Homo sapiens: one gene and its partner. The protein of the gene in region 2 purifies or fractionates together with the protein of the main gene of each other region. This does not show direct contact. Each region holds a gene or a part of one and is shown on either strand. Other genes may lie near its edges.

What was found.
Region 1: the proteins of RETN (region 2) and ZNF664 purify together in Homo sapiens (affinity purification with mass spectrometry; one large-scale study listed by BioGRID and IntAct). This does not show direct contact.

The regions. Positions count from the first base shown.
Region 1 is NC_000012.12:123,979,424-123,983,240, forward strand, and holds part of ZNF664 (zinc finger protein 664), read left to right. Parts: intron 1-3,817. UniProt on the Homo sapiens protein: May be involved in transcriptional regulation.
Region 2 is NC_000019.10:7,667,454-7,671,177, forward strand, and holds RETN (resistin isoform a precursor), read left to right. Parts: upstream 1-1,595; 5' UTR 1,596-1,668; intron 1,669-1,819; exon of another isoform or gene 1,820-1,863; 5' UTR 1,864-1,873; coding exon 1,874-1,991; intron 1,992-2,367; coding exon 2,368-2,445; intron 2,446-2,723; coding exon of another isoform or gene 2,724-2,765; coding exon 2,766-2,896; 3' UTR 2,897-3,002; downstream 3,003-3,724. UniProt on the Homo sapiens protein: Hormone that seems to suppress insulin ability to stimulate glucose uptake into adipose cells. Potentially links obesity to diabetes. Promotes chemotaxis in myeloid cells.

The DNA of each region.
Region 1 (3,817 bases), on a different chromosome or scaffold from region 2:
AATACATTGTTGGGACATAAAATTTTTCCAAGTTTTTAGATGGCAATTTTGGCAGAATTTTATCAAAATAAAAGTACACGTTGATTTAGCAGCTACACTTCAAGGAATCTGTGCTATTTTCATAGGAGAACATACGTTAATATAAACAATGTCTATTGCAGCGTCATTTATAATGAAAAATTGAAGATAATCACAATAAATTTTGGTACCCATATACTGTGGAATATCAAGTAGCGTTTTGTTTTTTGTGGGATTTTTTGTTTGTTTTGTTTTGAGACAGGGTCTTGCTCTGTTGCCTAGGCTGGAGTGCAGTGGTACGGAATGTGGTTCAGTGTAGCCTCAGCCTCCTGGGCTCAAGTGATCTGCCTCAGCCTCTCAAGTAGCTGGGACCACACACACACACACACACCACTACACCTGGCTGATTTTTAAATTTTTTTTGTAGAGACGGAGTCTCACCACGTTACCCAGGCCAGTCTTGAACTCCTGGCCTCAAGTGATCCTCCCGCCTTGGCCTCCCAAAGTGTTGGGATTACAGGCATGAGCCACCATGTCTAGCCTATTAGTTTTTTATATAGAGAGGTAGATTTGTATGTACTGACATAGCCTGTATGGATGTCTAGAATATACTGTTGAGCCAAAAAAGCAAGCTTAATCTCATTTTTTGTAAGATACAAAACAAAATAATGAAGGGTGAGTGTGTGTATATATATATATTCTGAATAAGAATTAGAAAAAGACTAGAATACCTGAAAACATTTAATTCTGATTACTTCATGGGAAAAGCCTAGGGGAGACTGGTTTTTCATATCACATGTGTTTGCATTGCTTCAGTTTTTTTTACAATGGGCATTTACTTTTGTAAGGAAGATGTTACAATTTCTCACCAATTTCATGAAGGTCTAGATTTAGACAAAAATATACAGTGCCTAGTACCTAAAAGGATGTGGTAAAAATGACACACTCTTATGTTACATTGGCCATATGTGTCAAGAGTCTTAAAATTATTTACATTTCTTGATGGTCTAGGAACCATCAAAAGAATATTTTTAAATACAGAGAAAAGCTTTCTGCACAAAATATGTATATTGTAGAATTATATTTATGGGCACAGTTTGCAGAATGGTTATGATACATCCCCTATATCATATATTTAGTGGCAAATAACATTGCCATTAAAAACGTTTATGAAGAAAATATATTAAAATGCTTATGATAGTGTTAAGTGGAAGGAAATCAGGATACACAATTGTATACCTGATATGATGAAAACGCCCCAAAAAAAGTCCCAGCAGCCTTCCAGTAAAACCTATGAATGGCAAAAATATGTAGAAGAAATTAGATGGAAATCTTAAGAATTGTGGAATTCGGTAGGATGTCGGGTGATTTAAATAATCTTTTTTGTATTTGCCAAGATTACATGTACCTGTATTACATGTATGATGGAACATTTGATTTAACAAAGTATATCTGGGACATGATAGCTACATGGCAAATAGACATGAGCACTTTTTTTTTTGGTTAAAGCCAATGAATAAATTTGGAATTTACACTGAAAATGATTGGGACCCATTGAAAACTTGTGAGTAGGGTAAGAACAATCCATTTTGCATTTTAGAAGGTTACATTAGAGTAGATAATGGATTAGAGGGAAGCAAGACTGGAGGCTTTTGTAGAATTCCAGGGAAGATGATGGTGGCTTGAGTTAAGTTGAGACAATGCAGGTACACAGTGGAGAGTTTCCAGAGGTATTTGGAAGAGAGTGGCTAGACCTTTGTGATGGGGGGAAGTCAATGATATTGACTTGGGCAATTGAGGGGAGAGTGGACTCATTTACTATAGTTGGGAATTGGCTATGGTTTGAATATTTGTCCCCTCCAAAACTCATGTTGAAACTTAATCCCCAATGTGACAGTGTTGAGAGGTGGGGCCTTTCAGAGGTTTGGCTCATGAGGGCAGAGCCATTCATAGATTAATGGGTTGTCATGGGAGGGGACCTGGGGGCTTTATAAAAAGAAAAGAGATCTGAGACAGCATGTTAACATGCTCAGCCCCCTCTCATCGTGTGATGCCCTGTGCCGGCTCAGGGCTCTTTGGAGAGTCCCCACCAGCAGGAGAGCTGTCACCAGATGTGGTCCTGGGCTTTTTCAGCCTCCATAACTGTAAGAGATAAATTTCTTCATAAATTATCCAGTTTCAGGTATTCTCTTGTAAGCAATAGAAAACAGATTAAGACAGGAATATAGTAGGCTTTGGTGAGGAAGTGACTGATTCAGTTTTGGATGTACTTGAGTTTGAAGGTCTTATAGGACACATAGGTGTGTCACGAAGAGGATTTACAAAGAATAATTTTACAGTACACATGTTTTGCTGTAAGAATGACTAGATACTATACATAGCTATGGTATTAAAATCAATATTTCTACATGGTAAATTTTTCTTGCAATATAGTTGTACTTCTGTAAATTGGGGCATATCTGTCTAGATAGACTGGACCATTGATATTTTTCACATAGAATTATTTGAGACTGCATGACCTCGACTTCAGATAATACCATGATTGTCTTTGGGGTTCATTGGGTAGACTCTTGCCTCTCTGAGTGGGTGGTGGAGGTTCCTCTGGGCATTAGTGGTCCTTTTGTCAGTCATCCTGTTGTCAGAGTACACCTGACTTCTGGGAGTGATTTCTCTTCATCTTGGTAAACTGGTCCCTTCCACGTAGGGGCAGGCCAGGAAATAGGCAGAGTGGTGCCCTTTCATCCATGTGTGAGTGCCCACCTGGCTGTTAATAGTATGGCTGGAGCATGGGTACCTTGAAGGACAAGTGGAGAAAAGGTAGCGGAGAAAGTGCCTGCCAAGGTAACAGAAGTCATTAGAGAGGAAGGTAGATGTCTTCATCAGAGGTTGGGGCCCAGTCGCTGGGAAGTTGGTGGCAGTCAGTGTGGCTGTGCTCTTTGCCTTCATCTCCCAGGCTTCTCCTGCTCACTGTGTGTCTGCCCTATGCTTCTATGTGTGCCTGCCCTCCCCCTAATCTCTTCTCTCGCTTGGCAGTAAATAACACGTGACCCCAGGTGGTCACTCTGGAAGGCCATTCTGAAACTCTAACTTCTGCCAGCTCACATCACAGACCCAGTCTTTCCACTTCCCACTTCCCAATTCCAAATTCTCTAGAAGGACAATCTGATTGGCTTAGCTTGGGTTCCACGCTCACCGTATCGGTTTTACTGTTGCAGCGCTTACAGGAGCAGATTCATTTAGTGTGAGCCTGGTGGACTGGCTAGAAGGGAGTGCAGACGAGGACACTCAGGAGAGACGTCCTGGAAGTTAGAAAGTTTCAAGAATGGACAGGAGCAGTAGTTTCAAACGGCCTAGAGATGTAATAAAGGGATCAGGAGTGAATCTTAGATTTAGCAAATTGAAGTCTTTCAGCCCAGGTTGAAAGTTGTGTCTACTGGGCATGGTGGCTCATGCCTGTAATCCCAGCACTTTGAGGGGCCAAGGCAGGCAGATGGCTTGAGGCTGGGAGTTTGAGACCAGCCTGGGCAACATGGCAAAACCCCGTCTCTACCAAAAATACAAAAATTAGCCAGGCATGGTGGCACACACCTGTGGTTCCAGCTACTTAAGAGGCTGAGGTGGGAGCATCACTGGAAGGCAGGGCTGTAGTGAGCCATGATCACGCCACTGTACTCCAGCCTGGGTGACAGAGCGAGACCCTGTCTCAAAAAAATAAAAAAAGAAAGCAAGCAAGTTGTGCTACAGCTAATCCATGTGGGAGAGTCACAAGGTGGAACCAATGGCTATGATTACTCATTTG
Region 2 (3,724 bases):
AGGAGAATTGCTTGAACCCAGGAGGTGGAGGTTGCAGTGAGCCAAGATTGAGCCACTGTACTCCAGCCTGAGCAACTGAGTGAGACTCTGAAACAAAGAAACAAACAAAAGCAATGGTTAAAATGGAACAAGATGGTGCATACCTGTAGCTTCAGCTACTGGGGAGTCCAAGGTGGGAGGATTACTTGAAGCCAGGAGTCTGACACTAGCTTGGGCAACATAGCAAGACCCCGTCTCAAAAAAAAAAAAAAAAAGGCCGGGCACGGTGGTTCACGCCTGTAATCCCAGCACTTTGGGAGGCCAAGGCGGGCAGATCACAAGGTCAGGGGATCGAGACCATCCTGGCTAACACGGTGAAACTCCATCTCTACTAAAAAAAAAAAAATACAAAAAATTAGCTGGGCGTGGTGGCAGGCGCCTGTAGTCCCAGCTACTTGGGAGGCTGAAGCAGGAGAATGGCGTGAACCCAGGAGGCGGAGCTTGTAGTGAGCCGAGATCGCGCCACTGCACTCCAGCCTGGGCGACAGAGCAAGATTCCGTCTCAAAAAAGAAAAAAGTAAGTTATAATGGTAAGTTGTATGTTATATGTATTTTACCACAAAAAGGCCCGTTGTACTGGAAACAAAGAACAAATAAAAATGTAATAACCATTCCAAGCTCATGGGTGGTCCAAGAAGAAACATGAGCTGGACCTTGGCCCATGAGCAATGGCTTTCCAACTTCTGTTGCAGGTGATGCCATTGATGGAATAAACCATGATTTTTCTTTCTTCTTTTTGAGATGGAGTCTTGCTATGGTGCCCAAGCTAGTCATCCAGGATGGAGTGCAGGGGCACGATCTCAGTGCACTGCAACCTCCACATCCCGGGTTCAAGTGATTCTCCCACCTCAGCCTCCCAAGTAGCTGGGATTACAGGCACACGCCACCACGCCCAGTTAATTTTTGTATGTCTAATGGAGACAGGGTTTCATCATGTTGGCCAGGTTGGTCTCAAGCTCCTGACCTCAAGTGATCCGCCCGCCTTGGCCTCCCAAAGTGCTGGGATTACAGGCGTGAGCCACCGGCCATAAACCATGATTTTATTTACCAGTTCTATTGCTCATGGGCATTTGGGTATGAATGTGGTATGTCATTCTCACCCAGAGACATAATTATTATTACTATTTTAGAGAAGTGGTCTTGCTCTGTTGCCCAGACTGGAGTGCAGTGCTGTGATCATAAGTCACTGTAGCTTCGAACTCCCGGGCTCAAGCAATTCTCTCACGTCAGCCTCCTTAGTAGCTGGGACTACAAGTGCTTGTCCGCACCATGCCTAGCAAGAGGCATTAATTTTGTCATGTTTGCATCAGCCACCCTTGCATGCAAAACTCTGCTTGTCTACCTGTTCCTCAGACCACAGCCCCTGGCATTATCCCTGGGGCACCACCTCCTGACCAGTCTCTGGACATGAAGACGGAGGCCCTGTTGGAAGTGGGAAGGCTCCCTTCCTCCTCCAGCCCTTACTGTCTGCTCAGGGGCTTCCTCTTGGCCCCGGATGTGGGACCGGAGGGTTGGGGGCCCAGGGACTTATTAGCCAAGCCAGGAAGCCCCACCCCAAGAGGCCTCAAAGAAAGAGCTGCGGTGCAGGAATTCGTGTGCCGGATTTGGTTAGCTGAGCCCACCGAGAGGGTAAGTGACAGCTGCTCCTGCGCTTGCCATGGCACCAGCGGGGAGGCTGGGGTCAAGGCTGAGCCTCCATCCCTGTCCCCCACATGGGGGGACAGGGGTCCAGGTCCAGGGGCAGATCCTACTCCCTCCATGGGCCGGATCTTCCCCACAGGGCAGGGCTGATCCAGCTGTGGGTCTCTTGGTTCCCTCTTTCAGCGCCTGCAGGATGAAAGCTCTCTGTCTCCTCCTCCTCCCTGTCCTGGGGCTGTTGGTGTCTAGCAAGACCCTGTGCTCCATGGAAGAAGCCATCAATGAGAGGATCCAGGAGGTCGCCGGCTCCCTAAGTGAGGACCCCCCACTTGGGCAAGCTCCCCAAGGGTCTCAGAGACCTCACTGATCCCTGGCACAGACCTGACTCCAACCCAGCCCCAGCGCTCACCAAATCTCATCCTCAAATCCAACCAGATCATAAATTCAACCCCAACTCCACTCCCAACCCCTCCGACTGTCCCCACCTTATCCACGGCTCCAAACCCAATCCCCGCTCTCACTCCAAACCTTCCCTTACTCCAAAACACCCAACTCAAGACAGGGTCCTGGAGGCCAGTGAGCTCCTATGCCCACAGGGACCTAGCTCCAAACCAACAGGGCTAGGGGAGGATGGGGGAGGGACCGTTTGGTCTCACAGCTCCCCCTGTCTCCTTTCCTCCTGCCCCCCAGTATTTAGGGCAATAAGCAGCATTGGCCTGGAGTGCCAGAGCGTCACCTCCAGGGGGGACCTGGCTACTTGCCCCCGAGGTGAGTGCAGGAGACTGTTGTCCAGGCGCCCATTTCTGTTCCAAGTCCCCTGGGAATGCCCCCTCCCCGCCACGTTCCCCGTGTCCAGCCTCTACTCCCCTAGGATCTTGGTCCTGACTCCCAGCCTTCTCCGCCCACCATCTGGACACTGGTGTCCACCCTCACTCCCTGCCTCCAGTGCCCATTCAGTGGTTGGAGCCTCCAGCCGTCCCCGTCCCCACCCCCGCCCCCCCAACCCCCCTCCGCGCTCCCCACCCCCCTCCCGCTCCCACCCTCAGCCTCCCAGCTCAGAGTCCACGCTCCTGTGTTCCGGGCTGCAGGCTTCGCCGTCACCGGCTGCACTTGTGGCTCCGCCTGTGGCTCGTGGGATGTGCGCGCCGAGACCACATGTCACTGCCAGTGCGCGGGCATGGACTGGACCGGAGCGCGCTGCTGTCGTGTGCAGCCCTGAGGTCGCGCGCAGCGCGTGCACAGCGCGGGCGGAGGCGGCTCCAGGTCCGGAGGGGTTGCGGGGGAGCTGGAAATAAACCTGGAGATGATGATGATGATGATGATGATGATGATGGAGCGGATCTGAGCCCTGCGTGGTTTCTTTAGTAGGCCCGGAGGGACTGATCTAGCGTCTCCAAGAGAGTGGGGCGCGTAGCTGCTGGAGGGGGCGGGGACACCGCGACTTTCTACTGCCCCATCGCCCTTCCTCCTATGGGGTCTCCAACTGCTTCCTCCGAAAATAGGGCCTGAACTTCCTCTAGTGACGTCCCCACCCAAGGCTCATGGCTGCCTTCAAGAGGTGACGTCTCATCTTTGAGGCTACCTTGACGCTCACCCTGGGGTCTCCGACCTCCCCAGGAAGTGGCTGGGTCCTTTTCCCCCAGTCCTCATAATGAGGCTTCATCGAGGACCTGGGTCAGTCTGGGCAGTGGACGGGACCCTCCAGGGCCCCAAGACTCCAGGAGCCCCAGGTCAGGGTGGAACCCTGAATCATGTCTCAGCCCAGAGCTGGAACCTGTACCCCTCACTTCCTACCTGCAAGGAGGAATCCCCAAGGCACAGGCAAAGTTGGGTTACGGAGAGTCAGGGACGCCTACCTGACGTCACGCATCATCACAAGCTCACGTTTTCACACAGGCAAGTGCAGTTGTGAGTAGTTAGTTACAACCAGATACACGCAGGGTGCTTACCCCTTCCTGGATACTAGATTATGAAAACACAGAGCAGGGGACTTGTCTGCTCCTAGATCCCCCCCAGGGTTTCGTTTCTTCCCTTCCCTTCCCCTCCC